Linked DNA regions of Homo sapiens: all the other regions are linked to region 1. Evidence: fine-mapped expression QTL. A gene starts in region 1. Each other region holds a variant in brackets. All regions are shown on one strand. Distances are between the middles of the regions. Region 1 holds the start of CYSLTR1 (cysteinyl leukotriene receptor 1). Region 2 has its middle 88 kb from the start of CYSLTR1. Region 3 has its middle 100 kb from the start of CYSLTR1.

The links. PIP is the estimated chance that this variant, and not a neighbour inherited with it, causes the effect. A credible set is the group of variants that fine-mapping cannot tell apart.
Region 2: its variant is the best candidate, but not a certain one, in a credible set for the expression of CYSLTR1 in whole blood (TOPMed, PIP 0.54).
Region 3: its variant is the best candidate, but not a certain one, in a credible set for the expression of CYSLTR1 in visceral fat (GTEx, PIP 0.84).

The regions. Positions count from the first base shown.
Region 1 is chrX:78,326,151-78,328,650 of GRCh38, forward strand. CYSLTR1 (cysteinyl leukotriene receptor 1) reads right to left here and starts at 1,461. Exons shown (of 3, transcript NM_006639.4): 1 at 1,155-1,461. RefSeq lists an enhancer at 1,633-1,682.
Region 2 is chrX:78,414,484-78,416,983 of GRCh38, forward strand. No RefSeq gene overlaps it. Among named protein-coding and RNA genes, the nearest start is that of CYSLTR1, 88 kb to the left of the region's middle. The variant G/T (reference allele first, on the strand shown) is at 1,135.
Region 3 is chrX:78,427,800-78,430,619 of GRCh38, forward strand. No RefSeq gene overlaps it. Among named protein-coding and RNA genes, the nearest start is that of CYSLTR1, 100 kb to the left of the region's middle. The variant G/C (reference allele first, on the strand shown) is at 1,558.

The sequences.
Region 1 (2,500 bases):
TAGCACTTGAGGTTGTTTATGATGTAAAAACAGATAGCTTTTAGTTCTAATTGAGCCATTAATAGTAAAACAACAACAGAAAACATTTCTGAATGATTAAGACTTCTGTAATAAAGTTAAAATTGTCTTGTAACAAATTTTCCTAATGTATTTTAAATGTAATACAGTCCTTTGTATTTTATAATGCATTGTAAAAATATAAATATTTTTGTTTTTAAAACAGTGTACAATCTAGTCCAGATTTAGTTACAATTTCTTTTAAAATAATCATTTGTTAGACATATGGTATCATAGTTTCTCTCTAGGTTTCAAAATAATCAGAATACTGGAAAGCAGAACCACTGAATTCAGTAGGTGGAACTTACAAACCCATTTGTTTCCTCTTGAAAACAGCCTTTTTTGTCGCTAAGTAGAAAAATGTTCCTGGCTAAAGATTTTATTAAAATGTATGAATCTTTGGCTCTGTGTAAACTTAGTCTACACCAGATGTGTCTGAGTTACTAAATAGATCATGCAATTTTCTTCTATTCATTTATAGTTGAGAGAGCTTTATTTTTACAGTCTCTGGCCAGAACTGGCCATTTTCTAGTTGTACGGTGTGTTTCAAGAAAATTTTTTAGCCTCTCTGAGTCAATTTTCTCATTCATAAACATGGACAGTAACACCTACCTTGTCTAAATTATAGGATGTTGAAAGGTTCAGGTGGGATAACAAATGTGAAACTACCTTGTGAAAATTTTACTCTCCACTGGTTTACCTTCAGTAATTACTACATATTTATTTTCCATATTGAAGGAAAATGTCACTACATTAGAGAAACTCCACTGAACCCTCAAAATGGGGATTTGAAAATGTATCTTACATTTCTGGCTTAAATTACAAAGGCACAGGAGGTTTGCGGAGTGTGTCTCCTCTGTATTTTGCCACGTTGAGCCCTAGCAGAAGCACTGAGCAATATTTGTTGACAGACTGATCATATTATCAGATTTCTGGCTAAGAAATAAAGCAGAAAGAATTCATACTAGCACCCAAACTTAAAGCAGGCAAGGCAGATAACTTATCCCCAAACTCCTGGGAATTTGCTAAAATTTACCATCAGCAACATTTTACTACATACTGTTCTGGTCTTAGTACTGAATACTGAGTCTCCTTACCTGCTAACTTCAAGGTCCACAGTTTACTGTCCTTTTGCGTTTGTTCTCAGAAGCAAGCTCCAAGTCTTCAGTAAATTCGATCTACCAGTCCTTGCAATTAATCCTTGTTGGCGAGCTGCACAGTATCTTGATACCCTGTAGGGTCGTAAAAGCACAGTCCATTCACAGAGTGCCTGCTCTATAGGCAAGCTTCTTTGCAAAGATGGGTTGCTGCTATTTTTAAGAGGGGAGAGAGCAGGGCACATTTGCTAGCCAATATATACAGATATACAGATTCTTCTTCCTCTTTCAGATTAGCCTTCAAACTGTTAAAGCACTCCCGGAGTCTGACTTCTCTGGTGCAAAGTGGGGGAGGGGAAGGGTCAAAGAGGAAGGAAGAATAGAAACTGGAGACTTGCAGGTTGCGTGTATGTATAAATAAACTTTTCTTCCTAGCTTCAGGAATAGAATTCTCAGGAAATTATTCAGCTGCTCTAAGATGGGAAGCAGGGACGAGTGTTCTCTCTTCAGCTTAGTTCTCTGTGATTTCTGTGACTGTGAGGTCATTAGACTATTTGTAGGTGGGGAAAGATAATCCTGCCAGTATATGCTAATATAACTGGCATTATGTGAAACTTGATCTTAAGTAACATAAATTTCATCTCTCCGTTTCTCTCTCTCTCTCCTTAATGACACTTGTGGCTCTATCCACATTCTAAAAAGCCTTTTCCTTTCTGGTTCCTTTTTGAGCTTTGTTTCCTGAAATCTTCATAACAATAAATTGCCTCCATTGGATTAAAACTGTTGTTTTCTTTTTTTGTCCCACTGAAGATGATCTGGAATGACTGGGCTTGCTGTCAATGGTCCTGTGTTGGAAATTTGGGGGATCAGGCAAGTGTTCTTGGCCTTTGGCTAGGCTCTGAGGTGTTAGAGCTGTGGGGTGCTCAATATGGCTTCTGGAGAAAAGGGACATAGCAGTCTGGTATGTGCTGATTGAAGCCTGGGGCAGCACTTTGATGTTAAAAACCAAATTGGTAAGATCATGATGTGAATTTGTTACATCAATTATCTTGAGTTATATTAAGAAGATTCTATATGGAGATGGGCATAAATATGTTGATGTTAACACTTTGTAAACATGCCCCATAACTAACAACTAGTTTTAGGTACTTGTAAAATATGAGCCCAGCAGTAGCCTTCTGGCTTGCTACCTGCTGTAGGAACAAAGTCATTTACTCAAATTTTGTATCTTTAGGTACAAGAATTACCTCACAACCAACCTGGGACAATCGCTTTAAGGCCCTTGAATCTTTATCTCTTTTCACAGAGTTCTGGATTGTGGTGGTGATGGTGATAGTTGGAGGAAA
Region 2 (2,500 bases), 88 kb after region 1:
TTGGAAATCATTCTCAGTAAACTATTGCAAGAACAAAAAACCAAACACCGCATATTCTCACTCATAGGTGGGAATTGAACAATGAGATCACATGGACACAGGAAGGGGAATATCACACTCTGGGGACTGTGGTGGGGTGGGGGGAGGGGGGAGGGATAGCATCGGGAGATATACCTAATGCTAGATGATGAGTTAGTGGGTGTAGTGCACCAGCATGGCACATGTATACATATGTAAGTAACCTGCACAATGTGCACATGTACTGTAAAACTTAAAGTATAATAATAAAAAAAAAAGATAACTTCAGTGGACTGCGGTCAGCTCTGGGTCTTGCAGAGGCTCTTAGATTCTGGGAAGAAACAGGAAAAAGGGTGTTGAAAATAACAATCATGCATTGGTCTTTAAGGGGAGTCTCTGTCTCCTTGGCTGAGACTTTTTGCCTTAACAAAGAAAAGCAAACCTCAACATCTTTAATATATTCTAAAGGAAGTTTCAATAACATGTGAGATGTGGGTTCTTGCTTGCTCTCTTTCTGTTTCTTGTGTAAAACTGGAACTGAAAACTATCCTTTTGTATTAATTAGCCAGGATTTTCTCTCTCTCTCTCTCTCTCTCTCTCTCTCTGTCTCTCTCTCTTCTTAAATAAAGGTGCCAATTACTTTGAGAGTTATCAGAATGTTTGTGTGAGTCTTATATTGTTTAAAGGTGACTTCTTAGACTCTGTTGAGGAATCTAGATGTGCCTGTCAAATCATTTATTTATTTACTGAGGCAGAGTCTCACTTCTGTCACCCAGGCTGAAGTGCAGTGGCATGATCATGGCTCACTGAAGCCTTGACTTCCCAGGTTCGGTAATTTTCCCACCTCAGCCTCCAGAGTAGTTTGGATTGCAGGTGCATGCCACCATATCTGGCTTATTATTATTATTATTTTAAGTAGAGATGGGGTTTCACTATGTTGCTCAGGCTTGTCTCAAACTCCTGAGCTCAAGTGATCTGCCTGCCTCTGTCTCACAAAGTGCTGGGATTAGAGGCATGAGCCACCATGCCTGGTCCTGTCAATATATTTAAAATAAACTTTCTCAAACCTCCTCACATAAATATAAACTGCAAGGGTGCTCCAATATAGTTCAAATA[G/T]AAATCATTCATTTTTTTCTTTAGCTAAAAGAAAAACTGTGAAACATTGCTGAACTTAAAGGTCACATGTTGATCAACCCTTCCAAACGATACAAAGGTAGGTGGAGACACTCACTTCTTCATGAAGGAGACTGAAAGTTACAAAGGCATAAAATATATTTAGATCCCCTGAGATTCTCTGTTGAAAGCAATTAGAAATCAGTCACACTTTATGTAAACCAGGCATTTAATTATCAGGTACAGAAGATACAAATTAGGCAAAGCAAAAAAGGAGAGTTGCAAGAACTTAATTTAGTAGGAATCCTTGTGAGGAGATTAATGAGATGTAAGGGAACATCGATCTCATTACGTTTGTAGATCTGAGGCCATAGACTTTCTAAGCAGCTTTCAATCTTGTGGATTGGATTTTGAAAACATTTTTTAACTACAGAAAGATATACTAGTAAACTTGGGACTTTTTCTGATCAAGTTGCTATCATTGTAACAAACATGAGGGATGGCCCCTATATGGAGTGTACAACAATTTACTTGGTCATAAAGTAATAAATACTTGAGTCGAGTATTTATTCATCTATTACATAAAGTAACCCCAGTGACAAGGAAGAAAGCAGTCATAATAACCAGCAGTTAAAACCCTGTACTTGTGAACTCTACCTGCAAAAATGCCTAATAAGAGTGACATTAGCAAGATGGCAGACTAGGAATCTCCAGGCCCTCATTTCCCCATAGAAATATAAAATAAACAACTAGAAATTGGCTAAAATTATTTTATAGGAGTGCTTGAAAAAAGTCAAAGATATATAGCAATAAAGTGAATGCATATTTAAAAATTGTATTAAAAACAGTAGAATATGTTGCAGCATTTTTCCTCACCCTTGTCTCCCTAACCCTCACATTCCCAGGCTCTGGCACAGTGCAGTTTGGGAGAAGCATCAGCCAAATCCTCAGATCCCTATTCCCTTTACAATTATTGGAGAAAGCAGAGCAGACTGAACTTTCTAACCTGTCTGTGGGTTGTCCAAGGGATTGGTCTCTGTGTCAGCTACTCAGAAATTAGAAAATATTTTGAGACAAATGAAAATTAAAACACAGCATACTAAAACTTATGGGAGGCAGTGAAATTAGTGATAAAAGAAACATTCATAGCTGTAAATATCTACATTAAAAGAGAGGATCTCCAGTCAATAACCCATCTTTAGATCTTTTAGAACAATAAGAACAAACTAAACCCAAAACTAACAGAAAAAAGGAATTAACAGAGACTAGAGCAGAGATAAACAAAGGGGAGACTAGGAAAACAGTAGAGAAAATCTATGAAAAGTCAACAAAATTTACAAGACTTTAGCTATACTGATGAAAAAAAAGG
Region 3 (2,820 bases), 100 kb after region 1:
CAGATTATATGAAGTTAGAAGATGCAGTGAATGTGATGGGCATCATGATTGGAATCCACAAAGATCTCAATGTCGAGTGGAATTTAACAAAGTAAAATTAAATAAGGAAAAAGTAAAATTCTGAACTAGATTTGCAAAAGTCAACCCTCAAATTTATTTATATACTCTCAAACTTACCAAAGTGCTTGCAACATAGGAGACGATATATATTAAGCAAATAAATGGTTAATAAAATATGGGAAATGACATGACTTTTTCCTCTCTCTTTTATTTGTATAAATTTAAGTTGTACAAGTGCAGTTTTGTTAAATAGATATATTGCATAGTGGTGAAGTCTGGGCTTTTAGTATAACTATCCCCTGAATAATATACATTGTAACCATTAAGTAATTGCTCATCTCTTTCACCCTTCCGAGATTCTTATGTCTATTACTTCACACTCCATGCCCATGCTTGGACATAATTTAGCTCCCACTTACAGGTGAGAATATGTGGTTTTTGATTTTCTGTTTCTGAGTTACTTCACTTAACACAATGGCCTGGCTGAATAGTATTTCGTGGTGTGTGTGTGTGTGTGTGTGTGTGTATACCACATTTTCTTCATCCAATCAACCATTGATAGACACACTTAGATTGATTCCATATATTTGCTGTTGTGAATAGTGCTGTGATAAACATATAAGGGTAGGTATCTTTTTAATACAATTATTTCTTTTCCTTTGGGTAGATAACCAATACTGGGATTGCTGGATTAAATGGTAGTGTTATTTTTAGTTCTTTGAGAAATCTCCATACCATTTTCTCTAGAGGTTGTATTAATTACATTCCCACCAACAGTGGAAAAGCATTCCCTTTTCCCTGCATCCTTGCCAACATCTGTTATTTTTTGACTTTGTAATAATTGCCATTCTGTGTGGTGTGAGATAATATCTCATTGTAGTTTTAATTTGCATTTCTCTGATTATTAGATGATTAGTGATATTGAGCAGTTTTTCATATGCTTGCTGGCCATTTGTATGTCTTATTTTGAAAAACGTTGGTTCATGTCCATTGCCCACTTTATAATGGGGTAGTTTTCTTCTTTGTTATTGTTGAGTTGTTTGAGTTCATTGTAAATTCTGGATGTTAGTCTCTTGTCGAATTCATAGTGTGCAAATATTTTCTTCCATTCTGCAAGTTTGTTCACTCTGTTGATTGTTTCTGTTGCTGTGCAGAAGCTTTTTAGTGTAATTAAGTCTCATTGTCTATTTTTGTTTTTGTAGCATTTGCTTTTGAGGTATTAGCCATAAATTCTTTGCTAGGCCAAAGTCCAAAAGAGTTTTCCCTAGGTTTTCTTCTTGGATTTTATAGTTTCAGGTCTTACATTTAAGTCTTTAAATGATCTTGAGTTGGCTTCGGTATATGATGAGAAATAGTGGTCCAACTTCATCCTTCTGTATATGGCAATTCAATTTTCCCAGCACCATTTATTGAAAAGGGTGCCCTGTCCCCAATATATGTTTTTGTTGACTTTGGGAAATGATGTGACTTAATGGCAGCTTGTGTGGAAAAGTTTCA[G/C]GAATTTAGCTGACTACGGCTGAATGTGAATTTATGTGGTTGCCGAAAATGCAAAAGAGAGAGGGAGGAAAGAAGGAAACAGAAACTGAACAATTTTACATTAACAAATACATTGTGCTCAAAATCAAGGGAGGTGCTCTTTCTATTAATTCTATGTCAGTCTGGACTGACTGAATAGAATTAGTAGAAGGAGCACCTTTCTTTATTTGGAGTATAATATTGATGTTGAGATACCACACTCTAAAAGGAAGTTTGGCAAACTAGGGTACATCTAGACTAATCTAATCAGGGTCATGAAAGGGCCAAAAATAATCTCAAATGAGAAATAGTTGATGGAATTGAACATATTTAGTCTAGGAAGGGGGAGTACTAAAGAGTATATAATGTCTGTTTTTAAATACTTTAAAGGGCTATCATTGGGAAGAAGGAGCAGGCTTGCTCTGTATTTTCCTGAGTAAGAACTATGTTCAAGGGTAAAAACTATAGAGACAGATTTTGACTCAATATGGGATAATGCTTTCTGCTAGTTAACACTGTCTATAAAATGAAATGGGCTGGGTGCGGTGGTTCAAGCCTGTAATCCCAGCACTTTGGGAGGCTGAGGCGGGTGGATCACGAGGTCAGGAGATCGAGACCAGCCTAACTAACACGGTGAAACCCCATCTCTACTAAAAATAAAAAAAAATACAAAAAAAAAATGAAATGGACTGCCGATGAAGTACAAAGTTCTTTGTTTCTGGAGGAGTTTAATTAGCTTCTGGATGGCCATTTGTCCAGGAATTCATAGAGGGAGTCTGTGTACCCCAGTTATTAGGGAATTGGATTGGGTGACTTAAGATCCATTCCAACTAAGATTTGATGCTTCCATGAAAGCAATTGGTTTATAGCAAACATCATATATCGTGTAGTGGAAAAATTCCAAGGACCATGAAGAAGTTCTAGTAGAAGTACCCTGAATCAAACTGACTATGTTCCCACAGACAAGGAGTTAGTATCCTCTAACAATTTAAGTCTTAACAAGAACATTATGTATACTAACTTGGATCAGAGCCAAATCTAGATACTTTTTAGCCAAAAAAGCATAAATTCCACAGTTATTTAACACCCAGCCTCTACTGTAGCCTGAGTCCCCTAGCACACTACTTCTGTGGCAAAGTACATATTGATGGCAAGGCTCTGCCTCAATGCCCATATTAGAGCGCTTAAAATCTCTTCAGTGTGGCAACTCTTAAACTTCACTTCATTAAGGAGAACTTGTCAAAT